Homo sapiens: one gene and its partner. The protein of the gene in region 2 interacts with the protein of the main gene of each other region in a pairwise test. Each region holds a gene or a part of one and is shown on either strand. Other genes may lie near its edges.

What was found.
Region 1: the proteins of TEX48 (region 2) and FNDC3B interact in binary tests that used the Homo sapiens proteins (3 or more experiments, as listed by UniProt).

What each region holds. Positions count from the first base shown.
Region 1 is NC_000003.12:172,243,209-172,253,997, reverse strand, and holds part of FNDC3B (fibronectin type III domain-containing protein 3B), read right to left. Parts: intron 6,466-10,789; coding exon 6,222-6,465; intron 2,739-6,221; coding exon 2,457-2,738; intron 1-2,456. UniProt on the Homo sapiens protein: May be a positive regulator of adipogenesis.
Region 2 is NC_000009.12:114,670,262-114,681,050, forward strand, and holds part of TEX48 (testis-expressed protein 48), read right to left. Parts: intron 1,567-10,789; 5' UTR 1,463-1,566; coding exon 1,459-1,462; intron 1,245-1,458; coding exon 1,122-1,244; exon of another isoform or gene 995-1,121; intron 1-994.

The DNA of each region.
Region 1 (10,789 bases), on a different chromosome or scaffold from region 2:
GACCACCCTGGCCAACATGGCAAAACCCCATCTCTACCAAAAATACAAAAATTAGCAGGGTGTGGTGGCACATGCCTGTAATTCCAGCTACTCAGGAGAGTGAGGCAGGAGAATGGTTTGAACCTGGGAGGCGGAGGTTGCAGTGAGCTGAGATCACACCACTGCACTCCAGCCTGCGTGACAGGGCAAGACTCCATCTCAAAAAAAAAAAGTAAAAAGATTTCTCTCTTCTGGCCATGAGAACAACTTAACCTAAGTAAAACATTACATAAAAAAAACAAAAACAAAAAACACACACAAGTCACATGTTATGGTTAGGTATATATTCTACTCTTGTGCAAACCACATATGAACCTATTAGGTTTATCATACTAGTATTAAGTATAGTTTTAGATTAATCAGGTGGCACTGGAAACTTAAGAATCAGTTAAGAAGTCTGTTTCCGGGGCACAGATTTAGATGTCAGCCGCAGTAAACTCCAGCAGGAGATACACTGTAAGGATGAGAAAGAAGGAAAAAGCCTTTTGGGATCCTAGGAGCCAACAACCACATTTTGAGGCAGACACAACTGAAACATTGTGAGCCACTTGATGGACCCCATGAACAAGAAGTGTTTTATTCTTCGTCTACACTATGTGATTCACGTTTGCCTTTTTGCTGTGACAACCAGGAGGCTGAAAACAAAATATATGGCTCACATCAAGCAATGCTACTGGAACCCTGCTTCATCTTATTAATATTTTCCTTCCCTTATCATCTTTCGGCTCCTTAATGCTTACATTTATTTTATCTGCTTCTTTGTGTCTAAGTCATTTCCCTTAAATCAGTTTTGGTGCAAGGCAAGGTGAAAATTATTAAAGAATGAGTCAAGTAATCAAAGTACTTCAAACCTCGTAAGCTCTCTGGACAATTTATACATTCTCTCTCGTTTTTCTTCGGATAAAAATTCTCTTCAGGAAAATCTATTCATAATTTTTTTTAGTATGAGTTCTTGTATAGTCATGGTTAAATTGTAACATTGCTAATAAACTAATTTCAAACTTAGAAATTACAGTATCATTTGACTAAAAATTATTTTATATGAGACCCAGCATCTTCCCTTAAGAGTTGTGTAAAAGTCTCTTGAATCTTTGCTTTCTTTTGTATGATATTGATTTATGTTTTGTTTAAGAGTTATAAGAATAACGTGATAATTGCAGAGTTTGGAAAATAGAGAAAAGAATACATAATTCAAATTAAAAGAACACATGATCTATTCACATTTCACTGTATCTTACTATTCCTCTCTCAGGCTGAAATTCACTCACCCAAATAACGTAGGGGGAAATGCCGACGGCGATATTTCATTTTACCTAATCTTCCTCTCTCTTGTCAGAAGCTCTTCCATAGACACTCAAAAATACACATATTCCATCTTTTTCATTCACAATCACATTCTCACAGACACAGTCCCTTTTTCTACCTGAATGAGATGCAGTAAGGAATCCATAAATTCAATGAGTGTTATAATCAATGAGTGTTATAATCAGATTCCTTACTGCATCTCAGTCAGGTAGAAACTGGGACTGTGTCTGTGAGAATGTGATTGTGAATGAAAAAGGGAATCTACTTGAAATAATTGATCTTATGTTTAAAAGTTGTTCAAGTCTTTGTTTTCCAGTCATTTATATCTATAAACTCACCTACCTTATCCAAATGCTACCTTTTTTGCCTCACTTAAGTCATTCTTCCCTATGCCTATAGAAATAGCCACTGTTTTTCCTTATGTGGCATCAAAATAGGTTCTCTCTAAACTACCTCCAAAACTTCATTTAAACACATAAACCTTCCTCCAAATGAACTGATCTACCCAAGAGATTCATCTACAAAAAGACAGATGCCATTCTGAGTTGATGTTTCTCTACCTATATGTGGTGGCCCTCATTCTTCCATCTTATTCTTAGTTTCTGAACACTTAATTCACAGGCAAAAGGTGGTATGAGACAATAACTGATGCCAAAACTAAACAGAAACATATTTCTGTGATTCAATGATAGATTTCATTACAGAAAGGAAGTAATTACGTATGGTTTATGAGGTATAATTATTTTGAGATTTAAACTAGCCTACACTTTTAGAAAAATTATCTTTGGATTTCTTCCACATCTGTCTATTCAGAGAGTGAAACAACAGAAGTAGGCTAACATGAAAAGATTTTCAAATATTTGTTATTAAGTGCAAAGTTGCATGGCATCTGTGACCAAAATGTAGTATTTCTGCCATGAAGTATTAATAAAAAATAAACAATGCAATATTATTTCCTTACCAAGAAATAGATCAAAGAAGGTCTACTCAAATATTCTTAGCAGAACAACCAACCACCATGAAATAATATTCTCATGTAAAAGATGTGGAAACATCATTTGAGATGTCTCTGTCTTGATAATTCACTCTATGGCAAACATCTTGAGTATTACCTTGCAAGTCTGAATCATTCGACTTTGGGCTGCTTCTTGCTCGTCGCTCTGTTTTCTTAATTCCGGGACCACTACCGCTGCCGCCTCCGCCACTTCCACCACTATGGCCCTTCCCATAGCCATTGTATACTGTTGTGCAGCTGCTTTTGTAGATAGAAGAAGGAGGGCTGTTGAGGCGGTTCTGGCGATCGATCTGGCGGTCTTTCAGTTTTTTGTGCGGAGGCTTGCTGTACTGGTCTTCTCGGGTGATGTAGGTTGACATTCCATAAAATGGTATAATTTCTAAAATGGATGATTATGATAAACCCAAACTCAGTTTACATTTTCAATAATAAATTATTAAATGGTCAAATGATCTGGCTCCTGAAGAAGTCTAAAGTATAAAGGAAGTCTAAAGTATTACTAAATAGAGTCTAATAAATATTTTTTAAGAAAATACTGCTGGGCACAGTGGCTCACGCTTTGGGAGGCCGAGGTGGGCGGACTGTCTGAGCTTGGGAGTTCGAAACTAGCCTGGGCAACATGGTGAAACCCCATCCCTACTAAAAATACAAAAAATTAGCCAGGCGTGGTGGTAGGCGCCTATAATCCCAGCTATCCAGGAGGCTGAGGCAGGAGAATCGCTTGAACCCTGGAGGCGGAGGTTGCAGTGAACTGAGATTGCATCACTGCACTCCAGCCTGAGCGACAGAGCAAGACTCTGTCTCAAAAAGAAAAAGAAAAAAGAAAATGCCATATACATGATATACATTTAAAGCATTCCCATTTGTTTCTAACCAATCAAGGAATAATCAATCATTAAAAACTACACTGTGTGTTCAGAAAAATTCCTATATTACAGAGAATACTGAAGACAAGGTTGTTATCCCTAAAGAGCTCATATTCTAGTTGCATTTATAACTGAGTTTGATTTTTACCTTTCAATATGTTTTCAGTAGTTGCAATACATGAAAAAGTCAGAACAAATAAAATACCCCTATTAAACATGTACTTAGAATCAAGCTACTTTAAAAGTCTACTCATCCCTGTAGACAGAATAGTATTTCTACTGGGAAGTATATTGCAGTCAAAGTTTTCTGTGGCATACAAAAGAGCCAACATTTGAACAAATTTAACTAAGATAATGAGATGACATATTTCCATTTAAAATAATCAAAGCTCACAGAATCAGGGGAAATGTTCAAGGAGGAAGTATAAGGATAAAGAAAAGCCATCTCTGAAATCTGGTGCCAAACATAATAAGCTGTGGTCTCAAACTTCTCTTTTGGAGTAATAGAAGGCAAGACAAATGTAGAATGTCACCTGACTTTACTATGCACATTTTAAAGTGGCTCAAAAGAAAATAGAAGCCTGCAAGCAATCTTATGATCTCAAGGGGAAAACTTTATGTTAAATTTAAATTTTTAAATCAGTTCAAAATTATTTTTAGGTATCAGTAAAAATGACAATGCGTAACATAAAGATTGGGTCCTTACATCTTTATAAGAAAAAAGGGTCACCTCTTCTATGGAGTGACAATATAAATTACCATCCAAATCTGAACACTTCTGAGAGCGAAAAGGAAGGAATATCAATAATTTCTTCAAGGCAAGAGACCTACACTAGGACTGTCACAGGCACAACAGAAATGTATGGTTACCCTGCATAATTTAACAAAACTGCTGTCTCAATTACTCAACAGTAAAGCTCCACTGTTTCTTACTGTTAACATAGCTAAAGCATAAACAAGAGTTGTTTTGTTAAAAAACAAATCTTCATGAGAGAACCAGTTTGCACTAGAGAACGTGTCAAAACAAATATAATCCTATTCAGAGAGTGTGTATCCAAAGAAACTATGTCAAAATATACCAGAAGGATAGTAAATGTTCTAAACACCACGATGTATTACACATGAGATTTAACATATTCACTATGGGCAGTAATAATCTTTTCAGACATGTTGAAAACTTTTAAAACTCTTATAGTTTAGAAAATTAATATTTAAATTGCTTTTAGGTATGCACACTAAGAACTAAGGTAAAAGAATATATCAATGGCTTATTTATAAAGGGAAGGGATTTTGTTTTACTGCTTTAATTTGAAATCAATGAAGGCATTTTTATTTGCATACATTATTGCTCTGTGTTATTTTAATGGAATTAGACCCAAATACACCATAAAATGAAGAGACTACAATTTTGCTTAACTCTAATGACGATTTAAATCATACTGTTGTCTTGCCTAAAATTGCAAAGGACAGCATTTACAAAACAGTAACCATGTGGCATCCTACTAACAGACTGCTAAAATAAGGCAAGTCAGACATATACCAGCAAGCAATGAGTCAGTCACCAAGGCCTTTCATGTCATCAGAGCTCAGATACAGCCAGAAAGCTCTAAGAAACACTCAATTATTTAATGCATGTTGAGTCAAAGCACTGAATACATTAAAAAAATTACAGCTAACTAAATTTTTTCAGTTTTTATCCAAATGTTTTCATAGTATATCCCCAATACTTGATGTTTTCTTGGTGTGTCGCATGGAAAAAAGATCAAATTGATAGGAAGTTATTGATGCTGCTATGAAATCAAAGTATTGATTTCATGTTTTGCTATCATCCCCTTATACGACATTGTGAAAGCACCTGATTAATTTGAATCATGTCAAATTTCTTTGACTACAAAAAAAAATAAACAAAACACACATACAGTCAAATTCTATCCCTAAGTTACAACGATATATTTCACTTAAAATATCATCTCAAAAAAGTTTTTTCTGTGAATAAGTTATAATGTGAGATGAACAGGGAATAATTATATATATAAAAATATAATTATAAATAAATAATTAATTATATAGAAATTATATAATTATATATATATAATTCTTAAAAGTGATAACTTGCTCAAACATTCTATGGTATAACAGGCATTTCTTCTACAATGTATCTAAACCAACATAATAAATGTCTGAAGCAGTAAAATGCTTCCATTCATAGTCAGACTCAGAAGAAAATCACTTTGCAAAGTCCTAGAGGCTAAAGTCTAATTTTACCCTCAATTATCTGGTTTCTTAGTATCCATTTTGATAGAGAAAGCCTTTAGACTAAACCAACACCAGGGTCAAAACTTTAAAAAGATATAATGTTGGTAGCTCTGAGGCTCTTTTCATATCCAGGTAAGTATTTGCCTAACAATCAGTGAAATTGCGGCTGCACTAATGGCTACTCTTAAACTAAAAGCAGGTTCAGGAAGGCCACATCAACAGCCAGGGGATTTTTGAGTTCTGCCAGCATCACAACATAGAGCCTTTTAGGAAACCTAAAGGTTCTTGAGACTTCACAATCTTCAAACACTGGAAATGGGGCACAAAACACTTTTCAATTTCCCTTTAACTGGTAGATCATATGGATACCAAAGAAACGATGTGCCACAGTTGTACCTCAGGCCACTCTCACATACAAACATGCTTTCAGGACATGGGAACGATGTCACACTGCCACTTTTCTAAAATAAAAGGTGGCTACCTTACTCCTTGATCTTGTAAGGTGGGGGTTGGGGCCGAGTTTGTGAAAACTGAAAGAAAGAAAAAGAACTAAACCCACAAAGTAATTTTTCCAAGGCACCATTCAGGACAAAGGAAGCTAGGAATTCCCCATGAGTCTTACAAACCACCTAGATCCTTTTCTACTATGCTTATTTCACAAGAAACAAAGGACCGCCTTGAACTATTGAAACGCTGTAATCAGTTTCAACGGCTCCTGACGCCAACGAAAATCTACTCACCTTGCTCACCATATATTGTGTGGGGAAGATGATGCTGGGGAAAAAACTGAGGCGGCATATCTCCAGGTCCGGTAACAGGTGGGTAGTAAGCCGTGTGTGAGTTATGAATAAAATGTGGATGGTGAGTCAGATAGGGAGGGAGATGATGGGTTGGAGACATGGCTGAGGGGTAGCTTGGGGGATAACACTCAGGAGACTGGGGTGTGACCACCACCCGGCGGACTCCAGTACTATCTTCAATCACCTAAAGAAAAACACAAAAGGAAAGAACGCAGTACATATTAGCAGCCTATGAATATATATAGTATTAATAACTTCCACTTTAATTTTACTTTTCTCTTCCACCATAGAAAAAAACAAATGCATGTTGTATTCTGGTTCTCTAGTTCAACCAGTCAAATGAGTTCTAGAAGTAATAACATGTAACTATAAAAACGTACAAAAACAAATTATTCATTGACATCTGATTCTGATCCCATGTAACTTTTTGGAGAGACCAGTATTTGATAATAAATCTTGTTTTTGTCTTAAAATTTTCACTGGCTTCATCCAAGACGAGTGAATTTAATGTGTGCTGAAACTGATTCTAGGAGTGACTTTTGAATTTAACTATCAGTTCAGTGGTTTTCCAGAAAGAGGCTTTCTGTGCCACCTAAGTACTTTTCCAGGGCTAGGCTTCTAGATATGCTGACAACATTCTTCCCCTTTCCTGCTTTAACATGCACAGTTCCATCATCATCAGGGCTTTAGGAAACAAAGGTGGCATTAACGTCAGAAGCCGTAAGTGTGCCCTAAGATTACTTAATCTAGGACTGAGGATATGGATGAAATGAGGGATTCTGACCAAAGAAAAACTTAAGTAACCCCAAATCAGTATGGACACTTTTGCTCCCAAGATGTCCTCATGATGAGTGTTGTGAAAGAAGATGCTTGGAAAAGCAACCTGCTATGAGAAAAGCAAGCCAATCAACACTCTATCCATTCTTTTTCCAATTCTTTGTTCATTATTTATTTTTAGAAATGGGATTTCACTCTGTTGCCCAGGCTGAAGTGCAGTGGCTACACGCAGGTGTGATCATCATACACTACAGCCTTGAACTGGCCTCAAGTCATCTTCCTGCCTCAGCCTCCAAAGTAGCTGGGACTACAGGCATGCACGACCGTGCCCAGCTCCTCTGAATGTTTTCTAATTCATCCAAGTAGAGCAACGAAGGCAGCACAATGCCAATATTTATTGCCTCTGTGGCCAGCGTCACACTACCAGCTCCTATGAGCAAACAACTTTGGTGAAACACAATGAAAGAAATAACTAACACAACAGATACCATGATGAAAAGGTAAAGTTGTAGGGTACAGAGAATGATAACGTGAGATGGGAGAATCAGGAAAGGCTTCAGGGACCTCAAACAATTGGCAGGGCTGGGACAGCTGAGAGATGGCCTCTAGGTCAGGGCCCTGCAAGGAAGTGGACACGGAGTAAACCTGGCAGTGAGGGCCAGGCTGCCAAGAAGCCATGCCAGCTGATCTAATCAAATGCACGATCGGGCACACACTCTGACAGGAAGTTTTGTTTTACAAAAAAAAAAAAATCTAAAAACCGCACAAAACTGACCTTCTATATTGAAATGGATTTCTCATTATACCTCAGGAGGTTAATTATAGGACAAAATAAAATGACTTAATCATGTCTAAAACATCTTAATAACAACAAAAAACTATACTTAGCTTCATATTTTAAAAGTAGTGCTTAAGACAGATTGGCAAGTCTATCAATGTTTATGTTATATTTCAGTGTACAAAATAGGTTTAGATTGAATGAACGGCCATTAATCCTTATGTTAAAAAAACAGAAATCTTTACATTCATTAATAAATCTATCAAAATAAATGTTTCTACTGTGTTAATAGTTCATAAATAAGATAATATTACCTATTTAAAATTAAGATTCCTAGTGAGATGCCTAGGACACAGCTTTTCATGTGATCTTTAATAAATATAATCTCTTCTGGGCCTTGGCAAGCTAATCACACTAACCCCATTTATGAATGCATGGAAGCTAATTTACAAGTGTATGTGAAGTGGGTGCTTAAACCATGACATTGGAAATTCTCATGCATGTATTGATAATTATCATCAAAGCTTCTTCTATTTTGTCTAAAACATAGAGCTGCATGCTGTTTGGTAGCACATGTATATAAATAGCACATGTAGTATAAATACATCATGATTTTTTTCCTACGATCTGACACAAACATGCATTATCCTACAGTGTCTTATTTCCCTCCTCACCCTCTACTAGCTATTAAGAAAAAAAAAAGGCATATTCCAGATGTTTCTCTTTCATGGAACCTTCATTCAATCCTGGAAGGACCACAGAAGTAAAGTACTTGTTTTCTAGAGGTTTACAATCTTTATTCTTTCATTCAGTGTAAAACTTCCAAAAGTCAACCAGCAACATAGACAACTGATGAAGTAGAACAAGAACAGGGCTCTCACTAAATATTAAGAGGCACGCTTTGGACTTTTAAACAAGACTATTTATAACGAAAAAATTTATTTGATCATTTTATCATATAACTTTGGACCTGTTAACAAAGTGGTTTTAAAAAAAAATTATCAAAAAGCACTAACTTTTTGAAGTTTTTTTTGAAGTAGCTTTTTGAAACCACAAATTGCCTGTACATATAAAAATTGCTTGACAGCTCCATTTTAAAGTATCTTATTCTGTGGGATTTGTAAAAGGTTTTTATTTACATGTGCATGCATAATGAAACCCTTTTAGAAACCTGTTCTTGACAAACCCAAGCCTGTCTTATCATTAAAAAGATTTATTTTAAAAAAGTGAAATATTGGCCAGGCGCAGTGGCTCACGCCTGTAATCCCAGTACTTTGGGAGGCCGAGGCAGGTGGACTGTCTGAGGTCAGAAGTTCAAGACCAGTCTGGCCAACATGGTGAAACCCCATCTCTGCTAAAAATACAAAAAATTAGCAGGGTGTGGCAGCGTGGACCTGTAGTCCCAGCTACTCAGGAGGCTGAAGCAGGGGAATTGCTTGAACCCAGGAGGTGGAGGCTGCAGTGAGCCAAGATCGCACCACTGCACTCCAGCCTGGGTGACAGACGGAGACGCCGACTCAAAAAAAAAAAAAAAAAAAAAAAAAGGTGAAATATTAATTCTGAAATAGTAGAAATATAAAAAATATGTGAATATTTTTACCATTTTTCTATAACATAAATTGCAACATATTTTAGTTATCCAATTCAGCTTTGATCTACATCTAAGGAAATTATGCCTAAGTCTCCCCCAAAATAAGAAAATCTGAGGAGCAATAACAATGCACAAAATAATTGGCAACTAAGGAAACGGTGGCAGTAACATTCTTTAATAAAGATGGCTCATAAATAAATATATTACTGTAGTCGAATTTAGACATCAGACAGAATTCAGTCCAAAACACCTGAGGCAAAAAAAATATGCCTTCATTCTTGGTAGACGACTAAGGAAAAGACAAATTCATTTCCTTTTGTGGTGTAGGAAATTGTGAGAATGTCCAGAGGCAGATGAATCACCTGTATTCAATTCAACTATTATTTCCTGACACATACTATGTGCTAAGGACTGGATATTCAAAGGGGAGAAAAAATAAGTGCTCAACAGTAAGACTCATCCACACAGCCTAAGAATATAAAGAGAAAAATTAGACTAAGTCCTAGTAAGTGCTGTTAAGAAAGCAGAAGTGTGGTGATTTCAGAAATCAGAATAAATATTCTTCATCTAAATTTTTTCCAGCTCTATGACCCAACAGAACTGTCACTCACATATCCTCTCCAGAGAAGCATAGAGCCTTGGAAAAGATCATTATGCCGGGTTCTCAGACTGTCACCTATCATGGGCTGACTTATGTGTCCCCAAATTCAAATGTTGACGTTCTGATGCTCACTACCTTCAGAATGTGACTGTATTTAGAAACAGGGCATTTTAAGTAGACAATTAAGGTGAAATGAGGTCATATAGGTAGACTCTAATCCAACAGTATCTATATAAGAGGAGATTTACAAGACACATGCACAAAGGGAACATCACGTGAAGACACCAAAGGAAGATGGCTGATATGGTTTGGCTGTATCCCCACCCAAATCTCATCTTGACTTCCCACATGTTGTGGGAGGGAGTGGGTGGGAGGTAATTGAATCATGAAGGCAAGTCTTTCCCGTGCTGTTCTCATGATGGTGATTTAAGTGTCACGAGATCTGATGGTTTTAAAAACAGGAGTCTCCCTGCACAACCTCTTTTTTTGCCTGCTGCCATCCATGTAAGATGTGACTTGGTCCTCCTTGCCTTCCACCATGATTGTGAGGCTTCCTCACCCACATGAAACTGTAAGTCCAATTAAACCTCTTTCCTTTGTAAATTGCCCAGTCTCAGGTATGTCTTTATCAGCAGCATGAAAACAGACTAATACAGTAAATTGGTCCAAGAAGAGTGGCACATTGCTGAAAAGTTACCCGAAAATGTGGAAGCAACTTTGAAACTGGGTAACAGGCAAAGGTTGGAGCAATTTGGAGGGCT
Region 2 (10,789 bases):
ATCATTCTTACCTTGGGAAAAGGCATTGATATTTTTAAGGTTCCTGATTTTTATTGTGACTCTACTTCCAGGGAAAGTATTTTAAAGACCCTCACATGTGGATTTCTGTCAAAATACATCATTGTATTATCCTGTCTCTCAGTGGGACTCTGCCACGTTCCTGGCCATCTGTGCTCACCCCCTCCCACCTGTGTGAGTCCTAACTTTGGCTGATTTTGACAATAGTGCTTCTTTTTTTTTTTCTGTCTGAAATTGTTGATTTTGATCCCTGATCTTCTCTGCTTGATCTCTTTTCATGGATCTTCAAGAAGGTTTTGATTACAAACTGAAGGCCAGGGTGACTTCTCTGTCTCTCTCTCTTCCCTTGACATGGTAGCCTAGGAAGTCTCATATTCCAGAGGCTCTGGCTAAAGATTTAAAGGGGGGTGGCTGGTTTGTACTAGACTTTGTGCAAGCAAGAAATACATTTTTATTTTGTAAACCATTGAGATTTCAAGGCTTATTTGTTTCAGCAGCAGAACATACTCTATCCTGATCAATACCTATATATTTTTTCTGCATGTTGAGTGCCTACTCTGTGCCAGACCCTGAGCTAGATGCTTATTTATATTGCCTCACAATAATAATGTATTGTGAATATCCCTGTTTTAGAGGCAAGGACAGTGAGACTCAGGGAGGTCAAGAGACTTGCCCAATTTCTGTGGCAGAGCTGAGGTTTGAACTAACATGTATTGCCCCCAAAACAGGGATCTTAACCACTATTTTTATAGTCTTTAATCCAGTGCTTCTCAAACTATCATGTACATTCAAATTTACCTGGAGATCCTGTTAAAGTGCCAGTTCTGATTCAGTAGTTCCAGAGCGGGGTCTGAAAATGCATTTCTAACAAGCTCCCAAGTGATGCCAATATTGCTGGCCCATAGACTACACTTTAAGCACAAGAGTTTAAGCTCTCTTGTTTATTGGTTTGAGTACTTAGCCATCCAACACCCACCTCATTTTAAATTGGAATTATCACTCAGTGATAGTGATGAAGGCAGTTTGGGGGTATCCCAGCAGGCAGAGAGTGAGCAAAGTGAGGTTTAGAGAGGCCATGCAGAGTGTCCTTATCTGATACCTACTTTGGGTCGATGGCTTGTGCTCCTGGGTTTGACTGGGAACCTTGGAGTCATTGATGGCATAGGGCTCCTGACAGTCCCTGCAGCATAAACAGAAGATCTTCAAGATCAGGTTTTGGTGGGCTGCTGTTGGAGGCAAAGGAATGAGGGGCATGGGTTCCGGAATCTGAATTCCAGATGCCTATTGGAAATTGACTGTGGTGGGGGTATCATTGGGTCAGCCTCTCCCAAGGCATTAATATAATACTCCTCCCCTCTCCCAAATCTTCTGTAGCTTCCCATGGCCAGCAGATCCTTCTGCCTAGGCCATTTTTTCCTATTCTGTACAAAGTTTTCTTACCCATGGAAAGGAGTTGAAACTTCTACTCTGCCAGCTTTGTCTGCAGGGGTGCCTTGTTGAATCAGCCAGTCTTGAGTTTGAGCCCAGTTCACTGGGCTGGGCTGTTTCCTAAGTAAACATAAGACCGTGGCTGAAAAATGCTAGTCCTTCACCTGTGTTCACACTCCAGATAGGATCTAATGACAGCAAAATCCCACCTCATGCAGACATGCACATAAACATGCTCAGGTTTCAGATAGCTCTGTGTCCTACCCCATGAACAGGTGCATGTTCTTAGGTGGATTCTTTACCCTTTTTGAACTTCACTTTTATCACTTGAAAAATGAGAATAGCAGTGCCTACTTTGCAGGAGTAAAGACTCATATATATGAAAAGTAGCTCCTGTGAAGCTAGGTATATGGTAAGTGCTCAATCAATGGTCATTCCATTTTCCTCCCTTCTCTTTATGTAGCTCACTGGCTTCCAATGATCCCAGCTGGTCCAGGTCCTATGGAAAGGAAGCATATGGACTTGTAGGTTTAAATTCTGGTTTTGCCACTAATTTGCTGGAGGGCTTTGGGTAGGTCCATGCTTTTTTCTGTGTCTCAGGCTCCTCGTCAGTAGTAAGAAGTTAGGCTGGATGATCTCCTCAAGGATCTTTCTAGTTTTGAAGGTCCAGGATTATAAGGCCTTGCTTTAGTCCCAGATCCCTTTATTTGTGTATCAAGTTTTTAGATCTCTGGATACATTCTGTTCTCACTCCCCTTCTTGTGGCAAAACCCTCTTTAAAAGGAAATTCTTATCATGGTATTGTTTAGGCGTCCCTCACAATACCTAATTCACTTCGCTTTGTGAGTTTTGCCTTCATTATAGGCACTTGAGTCCCATTTTCTCTACTGCCATACCCTGGCCTAAGCCACCATCATCTCTTGCCTGAATTCCTGCGATAGCTTCCTGACTGGTCTCCTTATTTCTCTTACCCTGAACTTCCTCCATAATTAATACAAAAGTTGGGGTAGTTCTGTTAAAATATATCATGTCACTCTTCAGCTCAAAACTTCCAAGGATAGGAAAAAATGGGTATAGTAGATGGAGCGATATAATATGGAAGGAAGAAATGGAAACTCAAATAGAATCAAATAGAAATTCTAGTTCTATAAAAACCAGTATCTGAAGAAAATATGTATTGGGTAGGGTTAACAACAGATTGGACAAAGCAAAAGCAATGATCAGTAAACTTGCGAAAAGGTCAATAGAAATTATCCAAACTGAAACAGGGAAAGCAAAAAAGATTTTAAAAGGATGAAGAGTACCCCACTGACCTTGCGGGATGCTACCAAGCTGTATAACATACGCGCGTTACTGGACTCTCAGAAGGACGAAGGGCAGAAAAAATATTTGGCAATAGTGGCTGAAAAGTTACTAAATTTGATGGAAAGCATCAACATAAGTATTCAGTGAGCACCAAACATGAAAAACAAAAAATCACAACGACCGGGCGCGGTGGCTCATGCCTGTAATCTCAGCACTTTGGGAGGCCGAGGCTGGCAGATCACCTGAGGTCAGGAGTTCGAGACCAGCCTGACCAACATGGAGAAACCCCGTCTCTGCTAAAAATACAAAACTAGCTGGGTGTGTGGCACATGCCTGTAATCCCAGCTACTCAGGAGGCTGAGGCAGGAGAATCGCTTGAACCCTGGAGGCGGAGGTTGTGGTGAGCCGAGATCACGCCATTGCACTCCAGCCTGGGCAAGAAGAATAAAACTCTGTCTCAAAAAAAAAAAAAGAAAAGAAAAGAAAATCACACCTAGGCACATTTTAGTCAAATGGCTAAAAAGTAAAGAACAGGCTCTTAAAACAACTGGAATAAATAAACATGAAAGAAAGAAACTGTAAACCTTTCACTTCATATTCCATGAAAATATCCTTCAATAATTAAGGCAAAATGAAGACATTATAAGATAAACAAAAATAGAGAGAATTTGTCTTTAGAAGGCCCAGGCTGTAAAAAATGCTAAGATCGAAGGAAAATGATACCAGATGGAAATTCACATTTACAGAAAGGGATGAATAGGATAAGAAATAGCAAATATGTGGGGGTAAATGCAAACTTTTTTTTTTTTTTGAGACAGAGTTTTACTCTGTCACCCAGGCTGGAGTACAGTGGCGTGATCACAGCTCACTGCAGCCTCAAACTCCTGGGCTCAAGTGATCCTCCTGCTTCAGCCTCCCCAGTAGCTGGGACTACAGGTGTGCACCACCACACCTGGCTAACTTTTGTATTTTTTGTAGAGACGTGGTCTCCCTATATAGCCCAGGCTGGCCTTGAACTCCTGGGCTCAAGTGATCCTCCCACATTGGCCTCAAAAGGTGCTGGGATTACAGGAGTGAGTCACCGCGCCTGGCCAGAAAGATTTTTTCTCTTTCTTTTCTCCAAAATTCAGTGGTTTTGCATATTCCTCAGAAGAAAAACCAAAGTTCTCACCTGGGTCTTAAGATACTCTGTAATCTAATCATCCTTCTTCCCTCCTGTCCACCCACAACCCTCATCACCAACTCTGTCTTCAATTCCTCCAATTCCCCAATTCCATTTGCCCCCCCTGCTGAGTTTTAAAACACAGCAAGCTCCCAACTCAACAATTTGTGCTTGTTTTACTCTCTGCCTGGAATTCAGTTCTCTTAGATAACAACATTCTGTCATTACCTTCAAGTCTTTGCTTCACCTTTTCTAGTGAGACTTTCTCTGTTGTATTTAACATTATAACCCCCTTGCCCAGCACCCCAGCACTTCCTAATCTCTTCCTTGTTTACTTTTCAAACATTTTCTCTTTCTTTTTTCTTCTTTCTTTCTCTCTTTTTCTTCTTTTTTTCTTTTCTTTCTTTTTTTCTCTTTTCTCTTTTTCTTTCCTTCCTTCCTTCCTTCCTTCCTTCCTTCCTTCCTTCCTTCCTTCCTTCCTTCCTTCCTTCCTTCTTTCCTTCTCTCTTGCTCTCACTCTCTTTCTTGACAGGGTCTAGCTCTATGCTCAGGCTGGAGTGCAGTGGCACAATCATGGTTCACTGCAGCCTTGAACTTCTGGGCTCCTCCTGCCTCAGCCTCCTGAGTAGCTGGGACTACAGGTGCATGCCACCATGTCCAGCAAATTCTTTTTTTTTTTTTTTTTTAAGAGAAGGGGTCTCACTGTATTGCTCAGGCTGGTCTTGAAATCAAGTGATCCTCCCATGTTGGCCTCCCAAAGTGCTGGGGTTACAGGTGTGAGTCACCGTGCCCAGCTTCATTTCCTAACACTCTACATAATTTGCTAAATTACTGTGTTGAAGGTCTGCTTCTTCCCACTAAATTAGAAGTCACATGAGGTCATGGATTTTAGCTGTTTGGTTTACTGCTCTATTCTCAGTGTCTAGAGCAGTACCTAGTGCAGTGTGGGAAGTCAATAATTGTTTGTAGAATAAAAATTGAGGGTGTTTGTAGAATAAACTAGCATTTATTCTTGTCTTGAGTAAAAGCACTTGCAGGCCCTGGGGGCAGTAGAGAGGTGGGTGGTAGTTTTTGTGCCAGGAACATCACAAGCTGTAGGACACAGCTTACCTCATTCACATGCTAAGCTTACTCTGATGGTTTCATGAGTCAATTTTAGTTCTGCTCTCTGTTTACTGGTTGGGACTATTTTTCTTCCCTGTCCACTGCAAAGCATATCTATCTTCTTCCCATGTTCCCTATTTCGTGGGATGATCCTATTATTCACTCTGTCTCTAGAGTCAGAAGCCTGCCAGCCTCCTGCCATCTGCTCGTGTTCATCAGTCTTTGAACTTTACTTTCCAAATATCTCTTCAGTCTGTCTGCCCAGCCAATCCTTTGCCATTTCCTTCACCGTAGTGTAAGCCACCATCACTTCTCACCTGGACCACTGCTTAAACTTTCTCATTGGTTTGTTTGCCTCCACCTAAAGCTAGAGTTATCTGGTAGACATGTAAATCCTATCTCTCTTCTGCCCCAACAACCCTCTGCCCCACCAAGGGGGTCCCCAAGTCTGCAGATCCAACTCCTTTTGTGATCACCACTGTTATTCTCTTCATCCTCATCTTCTCTGGGTTGCACTCACCGCCCTACAGCCATAAGAGATGCTGTATAGGCAGCTTCCCCAATCACCTTTTACTGAATGGACCCTGTTCACATCCTGTTCCCTCTACCTGGGATGTTCTCACCTCAATCCTTGAGTCATCAAACTCCAGGATTCAGCTCAGGGGCTACAGGAAGGCATGGGATAAGTTAGGAGTCCCTCCCTTGTGCTCCCACAGCACTCCCCTGCTGGCCCACCATGTTTTCCTGTACACAGCCTGTTATTGTACAGTGACTGCCTAACTCATGGTAAATGCTTAATAAACACTTGTTGAAACGTTGTCTTGTAACTGCCTCTTGTTGACAGTCTGGATACTAGTTCATGAGCTTTTTCCTTTTTCTTTTTCTTTTCTTTTTTTATTTTTTGAGACAGGGTCTCACTCTGACACCCGTGCTGGACTGTAGTGGCACCATCAGGGCTCACTCCAGCCTCATCCTCCCAGGTGCAAGCGATTTCCCTGCCTCAGCCTCCTGAGTAGCTTGGACTACAGGCTCGCACTACCATGCCCGGTTATAGTTTTTTTGTTTTTGTTTTGGTAGAGATGGGATTTTGCCGTATTGCCCAGGCTTATCTCGAATTCCTTAGCTCAAGAGATCTCCTGCCTCAGCCTCCAAAAGTGCTGGGTTATAGGCTTGAGACACTGAGCCCAGCCAAGCTTTTTTCTTTTTTTTTTCTTCATTTATTTCACATGTATTTACTGAAAACCTGCCATGTTCCAGGTACTGTTAGGTGCTGGAGATATAGCAGTGAACAAGACACAGGATAGACAAATGTCCATGGAAGCAGGGACAGTATTTTATTCACTTTTTTTTTTTTTTGAGATGGAGTCGCGCTCTGTTGCCCAGGCTGGAGTACAGTGGCGCAATCTTGTCTCACTTCGTGCTCCGCCTCCCGGGTTCACGCCATTCTCCTGCCTCAGCCTCCCGAGTAGCTGGGACTACAGGCACCTGCCACCACGCCTGGCTAATTTTTTGTATTTTTAGTAGAGACGGGGTTTCACTGTGTTAGCCAGGATGGTCTCGATCTCCTGACCTAGTGATCTGCCCATCTCGGCCTCCCAAAGTGCTGGGATTCCAGGCGTGAGCCACCGCGCCTGGCCTTTATTCACTTTTGTATCCTCAGCACTCAGCCCAGGGATGGGCACAGAATAGGTACTTTATACATATTTGTTGAATAAACACATGAACCTTCTCTGACTGTTGGAAAAAAACTATGCCAAACAGATCTCCTTCCTCCCTTCCACTAACTGATTTTTAACTTTCTGCACATAAGCTGTTCCTTGTGGTTAGATACGATGCGGGCTAGACACATACAGATGTCACCATTGTGTGGATTTTTTGGTCAAAGTGGGGGCACTCACTAGGTCCATTTAGCTCCAATCTCCAATAGTCTTTTGGATCTGCTGCCAGGTGAGGTGTTTTTGTTTGTTTGTTTGTTTTTTTGTTTTTCCCTAGACCTAGTGTCAGTGTCATGGGATTTTTTTTTTTTAACATGATTTTAGCTCTGATGTATTTCATTGAGTTCTCTTTAGTGGATTTATTTCATTTTCCTATAATTTATAAAGAAATAGAAATTTATACAGGCAGTTAGATCTTTTGTTTTGGAGATACACCATTTAGCAAATATCCTTGCCATTAATCTGCTTCGTATTCTGCTACTTGCTTTAGTTTCAGTTGTCTTCATCCACTTATAAAAATGCTTGCCTCACGGGGTTTGGCTTTGTTCCAGACTGCCTTGTGTATGTTGAATGTAGAAGGATGCACTTCATAAGAAAGGAATGGAAGCATAGCTCTGACAAGCCCCCACCATGAGTCAGCCCTGAGTGTCTGGAGTTTTACTGGAGTGGTAATTGATTTGTCTAGAAGAAATTGCTAAAACCTGGACTTGGGTCCCTCTAAACCTTTGTCAGCATGTGTTCTGTCTTGGTAAATCATAAAAGAAGGTCACTTTTTTTTTTTAGCTTATATTCGGGAGTCAGTAATTTTCAGGTTTTTGATCATGTGGCCTCTTTTAGGCTCTGCTTGGTCAAGAAATTCAAGACACTGCACAAGTAGAAACTGTTTATCAATTGTAGCGTGCTCTTTCCTGCTTGTCGTGGTCTCATCTGCATTAAGGTTGTTGCCTCTTCCTGGAAAAACTCCGTATATATACTCTCACTATAGGTACTCTCATGTATTTGTCTTAATAAATGGCAAAAGTTCACTAGATGACTTAGGATTACTGTAGCCATGATGACAAAGTTTTGATGTCAAAAATCAGATTTAAGAGGAGCTCTAGAGAAGAGAGAAGACAAAAATGCCAAACATAAATAGAAGGCTTCTTTGTCTGGAATGCTATGGCCTCAGGAAGAAAAAGATAAAAAAGACCTTACTCTTACTCAAACCTTCTGACACCTGTTTTCTTTGCTTCTGTCTTTCTCTCTCCACCCAACTTGATCTTTACTACCCACGTATACTCCTCTTACTCCTTCCCCTGGCTGCCCAAATAAACTTTTTCAGGGAGCATTTTTCTAGAGAAGAACAATCACATTGCACAACACCCACCTAAAACTTCTGCACTGAAGGTAGATCAAGAGAGGCCGAATTTAAACTCTGAGTAAGAGTTGAGTTGGGTAAAAATAGAATCTTCCCAAATTTCAGAACAAAAGAAAGTTTGTTTTGTATATCCTGTGTAATTCAGGATTCTGTTCGTTACTTATTGTCTTGGACTATCATATTTGTACCAATTAGTTCATTTCGTTGTTGACCTTTAGGCCAGGCACAGTGGCTCACACCTGTAATCCCAGCACTTTGGGAGGCTGAGACAGGAAGATTGCTTGAGTTTTGGAGTTTGAGACCAGCCTGGACAACATACCTCATCTCTACTAAAAATTAAAATTTAGCTGGGCATGGTGGTGTGCACTTGCACTTCCAGTTACTCAGAGGCTGAGGAGAGAGTATTGCTTGAATTTGAGAAATCAAGACTTCAGTGAGCTATAATCATGCCACTGCACTCCAGCCCAGGCAACAGGAGATCCTGACTCAAAAAAAAAAAAAAAAAAAAATTGTTGACCTTCAACAATGGGGAAAATGTTTAAGAGTAGCAGGATGAAAAAGGTCAGAAGATTCAAATAACCTATCTATGCATAATATTTTTAAGCATGGACTTGAGAGGGTAAGAAAAATAGGAAGTATGCCACATGAAACTATTTTAAAAGATTTTCTCTTAAGGGTGGATAGGGCAAAGATTCAAGAATAACAAACAAAATGATGAATCAATAGGTGACTTAATAGACTTCAGGACACTTTCAAAGGACATTCTGGGGCAAACAAAAAGTGTAAGTAAAAGGAGCCCTTTCTTTATGCAAAAGCTCATATCTAAAATAGAGGATTTAGAAAAAATCAATTGGAATGGGAAATTCCATTAGTGTAGATATCTTGATCATTTTCCAAGAGTCCTAAAATGTTAACTAGAAATCGAGATAATCTTTTGACCTACTAGATAAAACAACTGGCCCCTGAAATAAAGACAGGACCCAAATCTCCTCTGTTCTTTAAGAATTTGGAGTCTGTGGAGAACACTTGCACTTACTGTATGCAGAAAGGCCATTAGAAGAACTAATGTTCCATGTCAGAAGGACAGCTGTCCATATCTGTCTACTGAGTCTTTCTGAGGAGAACTTTGCACTTAACATTTTCCTATTTTGCCTCTAAACTCCCAAAGGGCATTGTCTATAAATATAAATGAACAGCTATACTGCTTGCTTGTTGATATGGTTTGTTTCTTATGTGGAGATCAGACTCTTCTATTCCAACTATAATTAAGACTAATTGTTCTGCATGATGAATACTTAGACCATTCCAGTGCATGATTCTCCAGCACCCACGGTGGACTATGTCTTCTTACACAGAGTCTGAAGGGATGAAACCCTTCTTGGGGGTTTAACTACTAGTAGATGAAACAGACTTCTGAGGATTCTGAGTTGAACAATTTAAAGTGCCTTTTTTCCCCTCACCTTGACTGACACAGCAAATCATGTAGCCCACACCCTAGGGTACACCTGACCAATTTAAAATCCTTAGTTTGAGTAATTATGGATCACAGAAACCTTCGGGTTTTATTTTAGCTAATTAGGGGAGTCTGCACCATTGCTAACACTCCCGTTGTGCCTGGATTAATATCACAGGTGAGGTTAATCTATAGCTAAGCCCAAAGAAAAAGCAGCCTGGCTATCTAAGGTAGATGGTCATGCCAGGGAAATCATGGGGCATGACTCCAGAGAGGCTTTCAGATCTTTTTGAAAATACTTTTAATTGTCATTGTCCCTTTTTTTTTTTTTTTTTTTTTTTGAGATGGAGTTTTGCTCTTGTTGCCAGGGTTGGAGTGCAATGGTGCGATCTCGGGTCACTGCAACCTCCGCCTCCTGGGTTCAAGCGATTCTCCTGCCTCAGCCTCCCGAGTAGCTGGGATTACAGGCATGCACCACCACGCATGGCTAATTTTAGTTTTTAGTAGAGATGGGGTTTCCCCATGTTGGGTCAGGCTGGTCTCGAACTCCTGACCTCAGGTGATCTGCCAGCCTTGGCCTCCCAACGTGCTGGGATTACAGGCGTGAGCCACTGTGCCTGGCCTTAATTATCATTGTCTTGCATCATTCAGGTTCTGTTGTCCAGAGAGCTGAATGCTTTTATGTAGCCTCTGGTTTGACAAATGGTGAAACAAATGATTCAAAGAAAAAATGAGAAGAAATGAGGCAGACTGATACTCAAAATGAAAACCAGATCTCTGTACATGGAAAAATGGAACTGTGTTTTCAAGAAAAGCCAATGACAGTGGTGAAGATCTGGACAATCTTGGAGGGTCTTTCCTGCACCTTTAGTTGAGGGAGACCAGAAGGCAGATAATGAGAATTAAAAAGAGAAGCTCCCACATTCCTAGGTGACGATGGATTGCCCTGTAACCACGGTAACAACGAATCCCCAGAACCTGTGTGACACTCATTTAATCTATTAATGAAACTCCCTTGGTAACCATTCTAACAGACACATGCCAGTAGGTACATTTCATAGCTAAAGGTCTACCATTCCTAAACACTGCTGCCTCTGAAACACCACCAGTCCACGAACTCAACACCTCCCAAAGCCCCTTATGCATCAGCCATGAGCTTTGTTCAGAGACTTTGCCATACAAGCACAGTTCTCCCTTGTTTAACCAGAAATAAATTCAGTTTTTGTTTCATGTAGTGAATGCAGGCA